Homo sapiens: one gene and its partners. The protein of the gene in region 2 purifies or fractionates together with the protein of the main gene of each other region. This does not show direct contact. Each region holds a gene or a part of one and is shown on either strand. Other genes may lie near its edges.

Region 1 (3,500 bases), 6.8 Mb from region 2:
CCGCCCAGGTTCAAGCGATTCTCATGCCTCAGTCTTCTCATGCCTCAGCCTCTGGAGTAGCTGGGACTACAGGCGCGTGCCACCACACCAGGCTAATTTTTTTTTGTATTTTTAGTAGAGATGGGGTTTCACCATGTTGCCCAGGCTGGTCTCAAACTCCTGGCCTCAAGTGATCCACCCACCTTGGCCTCCTAAAGTGCTGAGATTATCCCAAAGGGCTGGGATTACAGGCGTGAGCCACCGTGCCTGGAACCTCCCATCTATTTCAACCCCAGAGTAGGTTTGATCTGGGGCCTTGGAAAAACGCCCTTTCTCAGGTTTTCCAACGGGAAATAAGTAGACCCATTTTCCCCTTTTAGAGCCCTTAAATGCTGGGATAATTGTCCCATCTTTCTTGGTCTACATCCTGAATTTTTAGAACATGTTTTCACCCTAGACAGCCAGTCTAGCCCAGGCCTCACAAGATGCAGCCAATTCAAATCTCCTCTTTATACTTCCCACCTCCCTTAGTTCTCCAGCTGATGTCACTCTCGGTCTCTCCATTCCTTCTTCTTGCCTTACAGCTACATGCAACCCGTGTTCCCTCATCTACGTTGGGTTTAGTGGCTGCTGGTGGATTTCTAGACTACTTCAAGATGAGCACTTTTGAACCCATGTTTGAATTACACACGTGTTAGATCTTAGAGAAAAGGAGCTCAATTATGACATAGCTGATAGAATAGAGAGCTCAGAAATAAACCCACACATATGTTGTCAACTAATCTTTGACAAGGGTACCAAGAATACACATTAGGGAAAGAAGAGTGTCTGCAATAAATGGTATTAGGAAAAGTGAATATCCACATGCAAAAGAATGAAATTGGGCCCTATTCTTATATCATATACAGAATCCAACTCAAAATAGCCTAAAGACTTAGATGTAAGACGTGAAATCATAAAACTCCTAGAAAAAAACATGGGGGAAAAAAACTCCTTGATATTGGTCTTGGCAATGATTATTTAGATATGATACCCAAAGCACAGGCAATGAAGCAAAAACAAACAAGTGGGACTACATTAAACTAAAATGTTTCTGCGCAGCAAAGGAAGTAATCAACAAAACCAAAAGGTAGGTAGCCTATGGCATAAGAAAAAACCCTTGCAAAGCATGTGTGTGATAAGGGGTTAATTTTCAAAATACACAAGAAACTCCTACAATTCTATTGCAAACAAAACAAAACAAGCAAGCCGATGAAAAAATGGGCAAAGGGCTTGAAGAGACATTTCATCAAAGATGACATAAAATAAATGGCCAGCAGGCTTGTGAAAAGATGCTCACCATCGATACCTTTCATAAAACTCAGTGAACTGAAATTAAGGACCTTCCCCAACCAGATAAGGGGCATCTAGGGAAAACCTTTAGCTCATATCATATTTCATGGTGAAATACTGCATGCTTTCCCATAACACTGGGCAAAACAAAAAAAGTATGCTCTCACTACTTCTATTCAATATGATACTGGAAGGTTCTAGATAGGCAAGAAAAAAGAAAAGGCCTAAAGATTGTATAAGAAAATAGCTGGGCACAGTGGCTCACGCCTGTAATCCCAGCTACTCAGAAAGTTGAAATGGGAGAATCCCTTGAATCGAGGAGAAGGAGGCTGCAACAGGCCAAGATCTTGCCACTGTATTCCAGCTGGGGTGACAGAGTGACCCTGTCTCAAAAAAAAAAGATTGTTTAAGAAAATAAAGTTGCATTTATCCTGGCTTTGAGCAATTTGAGCATGATGTACCTTAGTGTCATTTTCTTCATGTTTCATGTGCTTGGAGTTTGTCTTTCTAGATCTGTGGACTTACAGTTATTTCATATGATTTAGAAAAATTTCACCCATTATTTCTTAAAAAAAATTTTTTTTGGTATCCTTCTCTCTTTTCTCCTTGGAAGAATCTAATTACACCTGTAGTAGTCCCTAGAGGTTGTCCCATAGCTCATTAAGGATGCTTTCATTTTTTTAATGCTTCATTTTGGTTAATTTCTTTTTTTTTCTTTTTTTTTTTTTTTTTGAGACGGAGTCTCGCTCTGTCGCCCAGGCTGGAGTGCAGTGGCGGGATCTCGGCTCACTGCAAGCTCCGCCTCCCAGGTTCACGCCATTCTCCTGCCTCAGCCTCCCAAGTAGCTGGGACTACAGGCGCCCGCCACTACGCCCGGCTAATTTTTTGTATTTTTAGTAGAGACGGGGTTTCACCGTTTTAGCTGGGATGGTCTCGATCTCCTGACCTCGTGATCCGCCCGCCTCGGCCTCCCAAAGTGCTGGGATTACAGGCCTGAGCCACCGCGCCCGGCCCATTTTGGTTAATTTCTACTGCAATGTATTAAACTCACTTTTTAAAAATCTTTTTGTTTTTTATTAAAAAACGGACAAAGGATCTGAATAGACATTTCTCAAATAAAGATAAGCAAGTGGCTAACAAGTATATGAAAACATGCTCAAAATCAATAATCATCAGGAAAATGCAAATCAAAACCACAATGAGATAGCACCTCACACCTGTTAGGATCGCTATTATCAAAAAAACGAGACAAGTGTTAGTGAGGATGTGTAGAAAAAGGAAACTTCTGTCCTGTCAGTGGGAATGTAAATTGGTACAGCCATTACAGAAAACAGTATGGAGGTTCCTCAAAAAATTAAAAATAGAACCATCATATAAAGCAATTTTACTGCTGGTTATATAACAAAAGGAAATGAAATCAGTATCTATAGCCCAACGTTCATTGCAGCATTATTCACAACAGCCAAGACACTGAAACAACCTTAGCATCCATCAACAGATGAATGGTAAAGAAAATGTGGTGTATATTATTTACATACAATAAGATATTATTCAGCCACAAAAAGAAGGAAATTCTGCCATTTGCAACAACATGAATGAACCTGGAGGGCATTATGCTAAGTGAAATAAACCAGACACAGAAAGACAAATACCACTTGATCTCATATGTGGAATCTAAAAAAGAGTCAAACTCGTAGAAGCAGAGAGTCGAATGGTGGTTGCCAGGGGCTGGGGTTGAGGAAAGTGGGGAGATAATGGTCAAAAGGTACAAAGTTTCAGGTATAAAATGAGTAAGTTCTGGGGATCGAATGTACAGTATGGTGACTTTAGTTAGTAACACTGTACTGTATACTTGAAATTACCTGAGAGAGTAGATTTTAAGTGTCCTCACCACAAACACACAAAAACTGGTAACTATGTAAGGGAATGGATGTATTAACTTGATTGTGGCAGTCATTTCACAATGCACCCGTATATCAAATCATGCACACCTTAAATACATGATTTCTGTCAATCATACCTCAATAAAACTGGGAGAAATAAAACATTACATTTGAAAAAATGTAACTAGAGGGGTAGGATATAAAACACTAAGAAAAATAAATATTTGGGATCTCTATTTTCAGAAAATTGGTGGACAAAGAGGTAAGGTATGGATATAACATCTACTTCTGACTAGCTGGCTTATC
Region 2 (3,500 bases):
CACACTCCAGCCTGGGTAACAGAGCAAGACTCCACCTGGGGTGGGTAGGGGGGAGATCGGGGGCAGGGAAGAAGCCACAATATGAAAGTGGTACAGAGAAAGAAAAAGAGAAAAAACAGGCCTGGCAGAGCGGCCCATGCCTGTAATCCCAGGGGTTTGGGAGATAAAAGGGGAAGCCTTGCTTGAGGTGAGGAGTTTGAGACCAGCCTAGGCAACATAGCGAGACTGAGTCTCTAGAAAACATTTAAAAAAATTAGCTGGGCATGGTGGTATGTGCCTGTAATCCCAGCTACTCCAGAGGCTGTGGTGGGAGAATCACTGGAGCCCAGGAGTTGAAGGTTGTAGTGAGCTGATTACACCACTGCACTCCAGCCTGGGCGACAGAACAAGACGCTATCTCTGGAAAAAAAAAAAAAAAAAAAAGGAGACATAACTAAAGGGTAAAGAGGAAGTTAGCAAAAGAATGAGAGGTGAGAACTCAAGGTCCCAAAGTAGACTAGATTAATACAGAGGAACATGACAATTACTTTGATTCTACTGGGTATTCTGTAGTCCCCTTGGTCAGTCAGTCTTAAAAATTCAGATATACATGTACCATTTTATGATTAAGTTTTCAATGGCCTATGACGAAAGGATCAAAATAAAGATGATACAGCAAATTTTTCATAAAGCTAAATTTATTCAATTTAAATGAGTATCTTTAATTATAACATTTTAAAATTTATTTTCCATTTTTAGAGAGAGTCTCACTCTGGTGTTTGAGAGGTCAGGAGTTTGAGACCAGCCTGGCCAACATATAGTGAAACCCCGTCTCTACTAAAAAATACAAAAATTAGCTGGGTGTAGCGCCACATGCCTGTAGTCCCAGCTACTTGGGAAGCTGAGGCAGGAGAATCGCTTGAACCCAGAGGGCGGAGGTTGCAGTGAGCTGAGATTATGCCACTGTACTCCAGCCTGGGCAACAGAGCAAGACTCCGTCTCTCAAAATAAAAAATAAATAAAAGAGAAGACAGGTGACACCATAATAAAAAAAAAAGGACAGATGATAAGCTGATCAAGTTTCCTTCAGGTGACATATATATGCTATACTCTCAAGAAACAATAGAAAAAGTTACTGGTTTTTTCAACTTACTCCCTTACATTTTTATGTATTTCAAAGCATGTGATCCAAGGGGTAGAATATTAAGCCTCAATGTTACTACTCTACAATAAAGGAAAATGTGGGAGTTAGAATGGACTGAATTCTCATGGCTAAACATATCACTTGAGCTCTGGGGGAGTGTAAAGACAGGAAACAATTGCAGACACGCTTGAGTTGCAAAGTCTCTGTCACTAACTCTCAGAGATGGGAAGTCAAGCCAGAGCCCAGATGTGGTCAGCAAGCTTTCTTGCTACTAAGCAACCTTGGATTCTCAGAGATCAGTAACTACTGACTTAGAAAAGACTACCTCGTACCCTAATATGTAGCCTTAAGAGTATGTTCTGGCTGCACATCATGGTTCACGCCTGTAATACCAGCATTTTGGGAGGCCAAGGCAGGAGGATCACTTGAGCCCAGGAGTTTGAGACCAGCCTGGGCAACATAGTGAGATCCCACCTCTGAAAAAGAAAGAATATGTCCTGCCTTCCTCCCTGTTCACAGCAATTGTTGAGCCACCTCTAAGCTTTGATCTTTAATCTTATCATGTTTATAAGGGTATCATTTAAAAAATATAATAGCTAGACTCTCAAAAATTCTGTGGTACAGAAATGAAATAATACATATAAGATTCAATTATTTATTTTCTATTCTCATTTTTTCCCACAAAAATACTAATTTTTTTTTTTTTTTTTGGTAAACCAGTCAAGTGGTATGATGATTATTACCTTCAAACCCGAGACAAAAAAAAGGGAGATGGGGCAGGTTTCTCTTCCTTTCAACCTTTTTAGCTCAGAAGAGAAGAAATCAGATTTAACTTCCCTTAGAAGTGCAGCTCTGCCGGGTGCAGTGACTCATGCCTGAAATCCCAGCACTTTGGGAGGCTGAGGTGGGCGGATCACCTAAGGTCAGGAATTCAACACCAGTCTGGCGAACATGGTGAAACCCCGTCTCTATTAAAAACACAAAAATTAGCCAGGTGTGGTGGCTGACACCTGTAATCTCAGCTACTTGGGAGGCTGAAGCAGGAGAATTGCTTGAACCTGGGAGGCAGAGGCTGCAGTGGGTCGAGACTTTGCCACTGCACTCCAGCCTGGGTGACAGAGCAAGACTCCATCAAAAAAAAAAAAAAAGAAGTACGGCTCTACAAGAATGACTTATAAAATGACCCATTAACTAGGGAGGATTGAGGCCTGACCATGGGTTAGCCCACTAGATGCAGGAGACCCATGGAGGATGTTCTTTAATGTGGGCAACTCTCCCAAGCAGTGCAGCAAAGTAGGCATAACAGTAAAAGTGTCTTAGCAGTCCCAGCTAGAGTAAGACTCCATTCCTCAAGCCCCCTTCCACTTGTTAGCTTTGAGTCCCTAAACCAAATACATATGAAGTCTCCAGAAGTCTATCACCTATCAACAGAGACAGAGTTCTCGGTATATATAGCCACTGGAGTCCAACCCAGTACCAGTTGTCAGCCTTAAGGTCAGTCAGGCAGATCAGAGCCAGTCTAGAGGTCATTTAGTCCAGTCTCTATATTTTATAGGTGAGGAAACCGAGACACATACAATTAGTCAATTTGGGCTAGGCGTGGTGGCTTACACCTGTAATCCTAGCACTTTGGGAGGGCGAGATGGGCAGATCACCTGAGGTCAGGAGTTTGAGACCAGCCTGGCCAACGTGGTGAAAACCTGTCTCTACTAAAAATACAAAAATTAGCTGGGTGTGGTGGTGCGTGCCTGTAATCCCAGCTACTCAGGAGGCTGAGGCACGAGAATTGCTTGAACCTGGGAGGCAGAGGTAGCAGTGAGCCGAGATCACACGACTGCACTCCAGCCTGGACAACAGAGCGATTCCGTCTCAAAAATAAATAAATAGCCCCATCCCTTCCCCGGCTCCCCCGGTGTCCGCCATGGCCAAAGCCTACGACCACCTCTTCAAGTTGCTGCTGATCGGGGACTCGGGGGTGGGCAAGACTTGTCTGATCATTCGCTTTGCAGAGGACAACTTCAACAACACTTACATCTCCACCATCGGAATTGATTTCAAGATCCGCACTGTGGATATAGAGGGGAAGAAGATCAAACTACAAGTCTGGGACACAGCTGGCCAAGAGCGGTTCAAGACAATAACTACTGCCTACTACCGTGGAGCCATGGGCATTATCCTAGCATACGACATCACGGATGAGAAATCTTTCGAGAATATTCAGAACTGGATGAAAAGCATCATGGAGAATGCCTCAGCTGGGGTGGAGCACCTCTTGCTAGGGAACAAATGTGACATGGAGGCCAAGAGGAAGGTGCAGAAGGAGCAGGCCGATAAGTTGGCTCGAGAGCATGGAATCCGATTTTTCGAAACTAGTGCT
Region 3 (3,500 bases), on a different chromosome or scaffold from region 2:
CTACTTTTTAATGGTTTGCTGCTGGATTTCATACTATTGTATCTTTTTTGAATTTTTCCTTGTTTTTTGAACAGTATTTTAAATCTTTTACTTCTGTTTTAGATTATGATATTAAGTGTATATTTGTTAAAATTAAAAATCGGTTTGTGATTTGAGTTTTCTGTTAGCTAATTTTATTCAGTGAATTTTTTGTGATTAAGTAATATACTAGTAAATAGTATAGTCAAAGACCGGATAAATTTATATCATTGGAAGTACATTCCATTTGTTAGCATTTTTCATAATCCCATCCCCCCTTTTTAATTTTGCAAACCATGTCTAGTATGAGATTGTTTATCAGTAAACATTCCAAAGTCACCTTTTAACTTAGAAGTATTATATATGAAAACAAATCATGACACATTTTTAAAATTTATAGCAGAAATCTTGAGTCAGACGGTATACATATATAAAATAAAGTTTATTTTTGTTTAACTGACATGAAATCCTAGGATTACTAATCTTAATGAAACATAAAAAAGACGAAATGAATTTACTTTTTTCTTACTTTATAGTAGTCTGAACTTTTGGAATACAAAATGCTTATGGTTTCATGTAATTTTAATCTAGTAGCTAAAGATTTTCATAATTTAGGGAAGTAAGTTGCTAGTAACTAGTCTTAGAGTAACAGATTATCTTTCCTAACAAGAAGAAACAATCAGTAGCAGTGATTTCATAAAGTAATAGATTGTATAAGTGGTGGTGTTCTGTTACACTTAAAACAACTAACTACATGTCATCTTAGAACAGGCTGCTTCATAGTTTATAGTGGAACAGTTTCCATATTCTAGAAAATTAGAAAAGCTTTTGATAAAAGAGAACTAGAAAATTTGTCAGTAGGCTATATTAAAAGACATCCTTCTTGGACTCTTACTGCAATAATTGCTTTGGCTTTTGAATATACTGCATTCAGAAGCTAAATCTTCCCTGTAAGTTAACTTTGTTAATTAACAAAAGTTGTAAATAGATCTATTTAGCAGCCAAATAGAAACTTGGGCAAATCTTAGGAAAGTATTGCAAATCTGCAGGGGTATCTTTTCTCGGTTTCCCATCATCTGCTTCCATTCCTTCCTTTCCTCTCTCCTTTTCCTTCTCCCTTCTGTCTGTCTGCCTATCTTGAGTTAAATTTGTTAAGCATATTTTTTTTTTCAGTGGTTGAGGAGAGGATTAGATCACCTTTTCTTTTGGTTAACAGGAGAAATGGTAGAACAAGTACTTTTGATACTCCAAAATCAATGTATTCAAATATAACCACCTTATGGAACGTTTGGTGCTTTTCCAAACACTCTAATATTCATTATGTCATTTGATTTTCGCACCAACCTATCTAAGTAGTTTGGGCAGATGGTATTATTTTCATTTCACAAGTGAGGAAGCTGAAACAGAAGGGTAAAGTAACATGCCCCAGGTTGTCTAGTCATCCACCTGGTTCCTAGTCCTATTGACTACTCCCTAACACCTGCTTCCTGCTCACGCTATTTCAAAAAGGTTGTTAGTACATAAAACTTTCCCAATTTTATAATGCGTTTCTTTAACATCATTATTTCATGTTGTCTTCTAACTTTGGTGAAATAGTCTTTCTTAATTTAAAGATAACGTAATTTTTTGCAGGTGCCATTGTTATAGAACGACCAAATGTGAAATGGAGTGACGTTGCTGGACTTGAAGGAGCCAAAGAAGCACTGAAAGAGGCTGTGATACTGCCTATTAAATTTCCTCATCTTTTTACAGGTGACATAACTTTTAAATAATTTTATTTCATGAGTTTGTAAAAGTTCATTGATGACTGAGGTGAAGCATTGTCATTCTTGTCACTAATGAATTATCTTAAATAAATTGTGACTGTTAAAAGGTGGTGATATATCTTTATACAAGATGTTTTATTTCTTATACATATCCATATTTGCAGTGTATATATATTGCAAAACAACCTAAATGTCAACCAGTAGGGTAATTCACCAACATGCAGTGGAATACTATGCACTCAGTAAAATAGAGTGTACATCTACATTAATAAATTGAAATCTGCATTGTATTTTATTGAAGAATGTCCACATCTATTGCAAAGATCAAAAAGCAGTTATAAACTGAATAGTATGATTCCATGTTTGCTAAATGTGTATGCTGAGAAGTAAGTATAGTTAGATTCACATAGAAATATTAATATATGCCTAGGGGATAAGATTATAGGAGATTTTTACTTTTGACTTTCATCTGAATTTTTGCAATGGTTATGATTTTTAAAGAGTATTTCTTAAAAAGAGGAGTAAGAATCACTTAACAGTTTCAGAGGAAGTGCATAACCTCTAGTAGCAAAAGGACATTTCATTATCACTGTGAAGAGAATATTGCTGACCTACCATCTGGGGAAACTTACAAGTTCTAGTTCCAGCAGTAAGTGATATGTCTGTGCTAAACCATTCCTTTATATTATCCTTCTTGTGACTGATAGCCTTGACTGTAATATGGCCACACCCACAGTCTGACAGTCAGAGGTTTTTCCTTTTGCAAACATGTTGGTTTATGTCAACAGCAAATCTGCAATGTTGGCCTCAGACTGAAGAGTCCAGACAGTCGTATCGTATAGAGCAGTGATGAAGAGCAAAAAGCCTGTAGGCCACGCACTGTCCGCCTAGCTTCAAGGTGCAGTTTACTACCCAACTTCAGGAGTATGAAACTTAACAGCATAAAAGTTGACATCATAATCCTATAAAAGCACAAAAATATGGTTGAACTCATTTTATGGTATATTACTTATACCACTTTTTCTCAAACATGAGTCATTGATGTATCATCTTCATGAATTTTTCCATGTATGTGTACCATTACTAATTTTTAATATTTTTCTTTGCTTATTTTTTAGAACAACATTTTTACTAGAGTATAGCATAAATATACAGAGACATACAGGAGCCCCTGGGTGTTGGGCTTCCTTAATTGTCACAAAGCAAGCATGCCAGTGTCATCAACCAGATCCAGAAATAACAGCATTGCCAGGGACCTGGCAGGAGCCTTCTGCCTCATTCCTCCCGAGAGGTCATCTCTCTCTCTCGACTTCTAACGCCAGAGATTATTTTGCCTGTATTTGAACTTTAAATCATCTCACATATTTTTACTTAGTAACGTTATTGAAAAGACTGCTTTGTGCCTTTATAAGTGGAAAAAAAAGTGTTTTTCCAATACACATTAAAAAATTATTTAAAGTATATACCACCTAAAAGTACTTCATGTTATACCAGTGGTATATGTACCATACTCAGACACTGACTTGTAAATGTATACATGTAAAATAGGAAAATGAAATTCAAGTAACAGTTGCTTTCATAACAGTTAAGTGAAACAGTGTTATTCATCTGCATATCATTCTTTTGCAGATACTGTGTACACATCCATAGTTTGCACCTAGCAGTTTTTTTTGTTTTGTTTTGTTTTGTTTCTTTTTTTGAGACAGAGTTTCACTC
Region 4 (3,500 bases), on a different chromosome or scaffold from region 2:
CGGCATTTCCCGTAGGACCTGTGCCTCCAGCGCCTCCAACTGCTGCAGGATGGAGGCGAAGTCGGGCCTGCGGTGGGGGTCCTGCGCCCAGCAGTCTAGGGGCACGGCGTGCAGCGGGGACAGAATAAGAAGGGGTCCGTGGGTGGATGTGTCCTGGGCCAGGGAGCTCTGTACCTCACCTGCCCTCCCCGTCCTCTTACCGGCCATAAGCTGTGCGAAGGGCTCGGGGCAGGTGGATGGGATGGGCAGTGTGAGCTTGTTAACAGCTACGCCATAGGCCACAGCAAGGCAGTCAATGCCACGGTATGGCACCTCCCCGGTCAGCAGTTCCCACAGCAGCACCCCAAAACTGTGGGCGAGACAACAGGTCTGTGTTCCCTTTTCTCTCCCAACCCCCACCCCCTTACTGCCACTTCACCCAAAAGCAACTAGGAGCCAAGTGGTTTGGGTCCCTGTCCCTGGACTTGGCCCAGCCCTAGATTTAGGCAGCCACCTCTGCCCTCTGCAGCCCCGTAGCAGCCCGTCCAGCCCCACCAAGGGCCGCACCTCCAGACGTCACTGCCCTTAGAGAAGGTGGAGGCCTTGATAACCTCAGGAGCCATCCAGGCGTAGGTGCCCGCGGCACTCATTTGTGTGGTTTTGTGCCACTCTCGGGCCAGGCCAAAGTCGGTGATCTTCAGGGTCTTGTGCTCCATGTCGTCACTCTCAATGGGCTGCAGCAGCAAAACTAGAGAAGAGGGGCCAGATTGTGGATGCTCCAGGATCAGGTGGTGGGGACAGGGTAAGAGCTGGGAGCAAACTCATCTGACGGACATCCTGGCTGGGTCCTGGGGGCACAGAGGTGACTTGGTCTAGATCTTGAGGACCTACTTGAGGTCAGACATTTCTTTTCTTTTCCTTTTTTTTTTTTCTTAAGATAGAGTTTTGCTCTTGTTGCCCAGGCTGGAGTGCAATGGCGTGATCTTGGCTCACTGCAACCTCCACCTCCTGGGTTCAAGCGATTGTCCTGCCCCAGCCTCCCGAGTAGTGGGATTATGGGCATGTGCCACCACGCCCGACTAATTTTGCATTTTTAGTAGAGACAGGGTTTCTCCATGTTGGTCAGGCTGGTCTCGAACTCCCAACCTCAGGTGATCTGCCCGCCTCGGCCTCCCAAAGTGCTGGGATTACAGGCCACTGCACCTGGCCGAGGCCAAACATTTCACACTCAACCCCAGCACTCAAAACCATTTATGAGCTAAATAATATTTTTCATGTTTCACAGATGAGGAAACCAAGCAGGGAAATGACTTGGCAGAGGTCATACAACAAATACAGCAGAGATTACAACCTGGTCTGTGTGGCTCTGAAACCAGTGTTCTAGCTTTTCCCTAATATTACACTGAAGCAAAACTGGCAAGGTGGCAGCTCTGGACATTTATGGCTTTGATTTCAAGAGAGATCTGTGAGTCTCCTGTCATTTTGTTGAGGCAGGAGCGTGAATCAGAACCCCCCTTAGAGTGGGGAGCAAGAGGGAAGCTCTTGGTGAGAAAAGAAGCCCAGCAGGTACCACAGGCCCCTAGTGCCCACATCACACTGTGGCAAGTGCAGCCACTCCCAAAGCAAAGACTCCAAAAGATACCTACCAATGCAGCTGGAAGGGAAGAGAAAGGGTGGGGTCCAAGAAAGTGATGGTTCTTGGCCACAAAGGAGGAGCTTGGGGTAAATGTAGGCGTGGATGGTCAGACTTGGCAGGGGCTCATGGCTTTAACCCAAATGGGGCCACCGTACTTGGTACAAAGAGGAGAAGCAGCAACTTGCATATCTCTCACCAGGACAGGAATGGCTCAAATGAGAGAAGTTTTCGAGGAATAGAAAGAGGACAAAGTCATAGAGTCATGAAGGGTCTGAAGGGCCCCTCTACTTTTCAGGTTACAGCCAACTGCACTGTGGAAGAGAAGCAATATCAAGTCAACCATGTTTCTGGACCCATGTCAGGGCACACCTCTCAGCTCTCCTGCCCTGTGTGACACGGCTGTCATGGGGGCAGCATAGGGCACAGGGGGTGGGGCAGATGGGAAGGGCACCTAATACAGCCTGGTGAGTCAGGGAAGACTTCCCAGAGGAGGTGGCAGAACCAGGGTGCTCATTTTTCAGGGCTTAAAGCAACAAGCCCTGATCCTGCTGCTGGCCAGGCCACCTGGGCCTTGAGGAGGCATCTGGCACTGCTGCCAGCTGTCCCCGCTGCCCCACCGTCCTCAGCCCCCACAGCCCCTGGCTGCTTGGCTCTGTTTCTGTGTCCTCCACCTTCAGCCATTTCGGCGCTGGTGCTTCTCAGAGCATGACCTCTCCTCAACCTCTGCCCACTGCCCCTGGCTGACTCAGCCTCTTCCAGGTACCAGCTCCCTCTCCCCACTGGCATCTTCCACATTTGCAACTCCAGGCCAGACAAATTGGTTCAGCAGCTCTACCTGATGTCCAGGTGCCCTCCATGACCACCTTTACTATCCCGGCATGCCCAGTAGATTTTCCTGCAATTTTTCCTAATCCAGAGAATGGTCTCAAAATCTACCCACTCCTCTGAGCCAGACCTTGGAGCTGAGTCCTGAACACTTCATCAAGCTGAGGATGACAACAAAACCCTCCTCAGATGGCTGTCACGAGCATGAAACAAGACCACACTTTTAAAGTTTTTGCATGGGGGCTGCCACCTGGCAGAAGCATCCTAAAGGCCAGTTGTCCTAAAGCACTTATCGTATCTCCGCCCTCCTCTCCCTCCTCTGTCACTCCTTACTGCCAACTTCAAAACAGCCTCTGGTCTGGCTGCTGGAGGCGGGGACCTGAGCATTTAGCAAGCCCCCGACGACAAGCTCATTCCAAAGGGGAAACACAGCAGGCTGGGGCAGTGGGTGGAGTGGAAATGGGCACCTCCCCTGGTGCCAGGGCCCACCTTCCCCTTTGAAGACCAACACTTGCTGCTTCTTGGCCTGTCTCTAGCCACTTGTGGCACCCCAGACTGGCAAAGTGCTGTTCCAGTATCTCAGGCCGGGTGGCCACTCTCCACCTTTTTCAGGTGGGGAATCTGAGGCCCAGAGAGGGGCAACAACTCACCCAAAGTTTCAGGACTTCTTTGTACTTGTGGTCTTTCTGCTACCTCCCCGCTCCTGGCTCTGCCAGCTGCTAAGCCCCATCCTCTGCTTTCTCTCCAAGCTCCTCTCTGTGCTTTCAACTGTCCCAACTCGAACTGCTGTTCTGGTGTCTGATGTAGATCCCAGGCATGGGAGGTCAGGGGTCACCCAGAGGAGAATGGGCCAGAGACCCCGAAACTGGGGGAAGCTCTCAGTGCCCCTTTAGGGCTCCCTGGCCTCTGATAGGGACCTGGCCACCAGCTCCCTCCCTGGGCTGGCCTCTGTGGGGCTTGGGAGTGGCCTGGGCAGCTCACACCTCTTCCGCTTTCCTCCCGTGGTCCCTACTTCTCCTTTCTGGGAGGCCTGGGCCAGGTCTCCCACTTGGGAGGGGGA

Evidence for each region. The genes of interacting proteins can lie anywhere in the genome.
Region 1: the proteins of RAB5B (region 2) and PPM1H purify together in Homo sapiens (co-immunoprecipitation; one study listed by IntAct). This does not show direct contact.
Region 3: the proteins of RAB5B (region 2) and VPS4B fractionate together in Homo sapiens (co-fractionation; one large-scale study listed by BioGRID). This does not show direct contact.
Region 4: the proteins of RAB5B (region 2) and MAP3K11 fractionate together in Homo sapiens (co-fractionation; one large-scale study listed by BioGRID). This does not show direct contact.

What each region holds. Positions count from the first base shown.
Region 1 is NC_000012.12:62,802,651-62,806,150, forward strand, and holds part of PPM1H (protein phosphatase 1H), read right to left. Parts: intron 1-3,500. UniProt on the Homo sapiens protein: Dephosphorylates CDKN1B at 'Thr-187', thus removing a signal for proteasomal degradation.
Region 2 is NC_000012.12:55,980,578-55,984,077, reverse strand, and holds part of RAB5B (ras-related protein Rab-5B), read right to left. Parts: intron 1-3,500. UniProt on the Homo sapiens protein: The small GTPases Rab are key regulators of intracellular membrane trafficking, from the formation of transport vesicles to their fusion with membranes.
Region 3 is NC_000018.10:63,401,977-63,405,476, reverse strand, and holds part of VPS4B (vacuolar protein sorting-associated protein 4B), read left to right. Parts: intron 1-441; exon of another isoform or gene 442-1,650; coding exon 1,651-1,770; exon of another isoform or gene 1,771-2,746; intron 2,747-3,500.
Region 4 is NC_000011.10:65,607,722-65,611,221, forward strand, and holds part of MAP3K11 (mitogen-activated protein kinase kinase kinase 11), read right to left. Parts: intron 728-3,500; coding exon 547-727; intron 350-546; coding exon 201-349; intron 96-200; coding exon 1-95. UniProt on the Homo sapiens protein: Activates the JUN N-terminal pathway. Required for serum-stimulated cell proliferation and for mitogen and cytokine activation of MAPK14 (p38), MAPK3 (ERK) and MAPK8 (JNK1) through phosphorylation and activation of MAP2K4/MKK4 and MAP2K7/MKK7.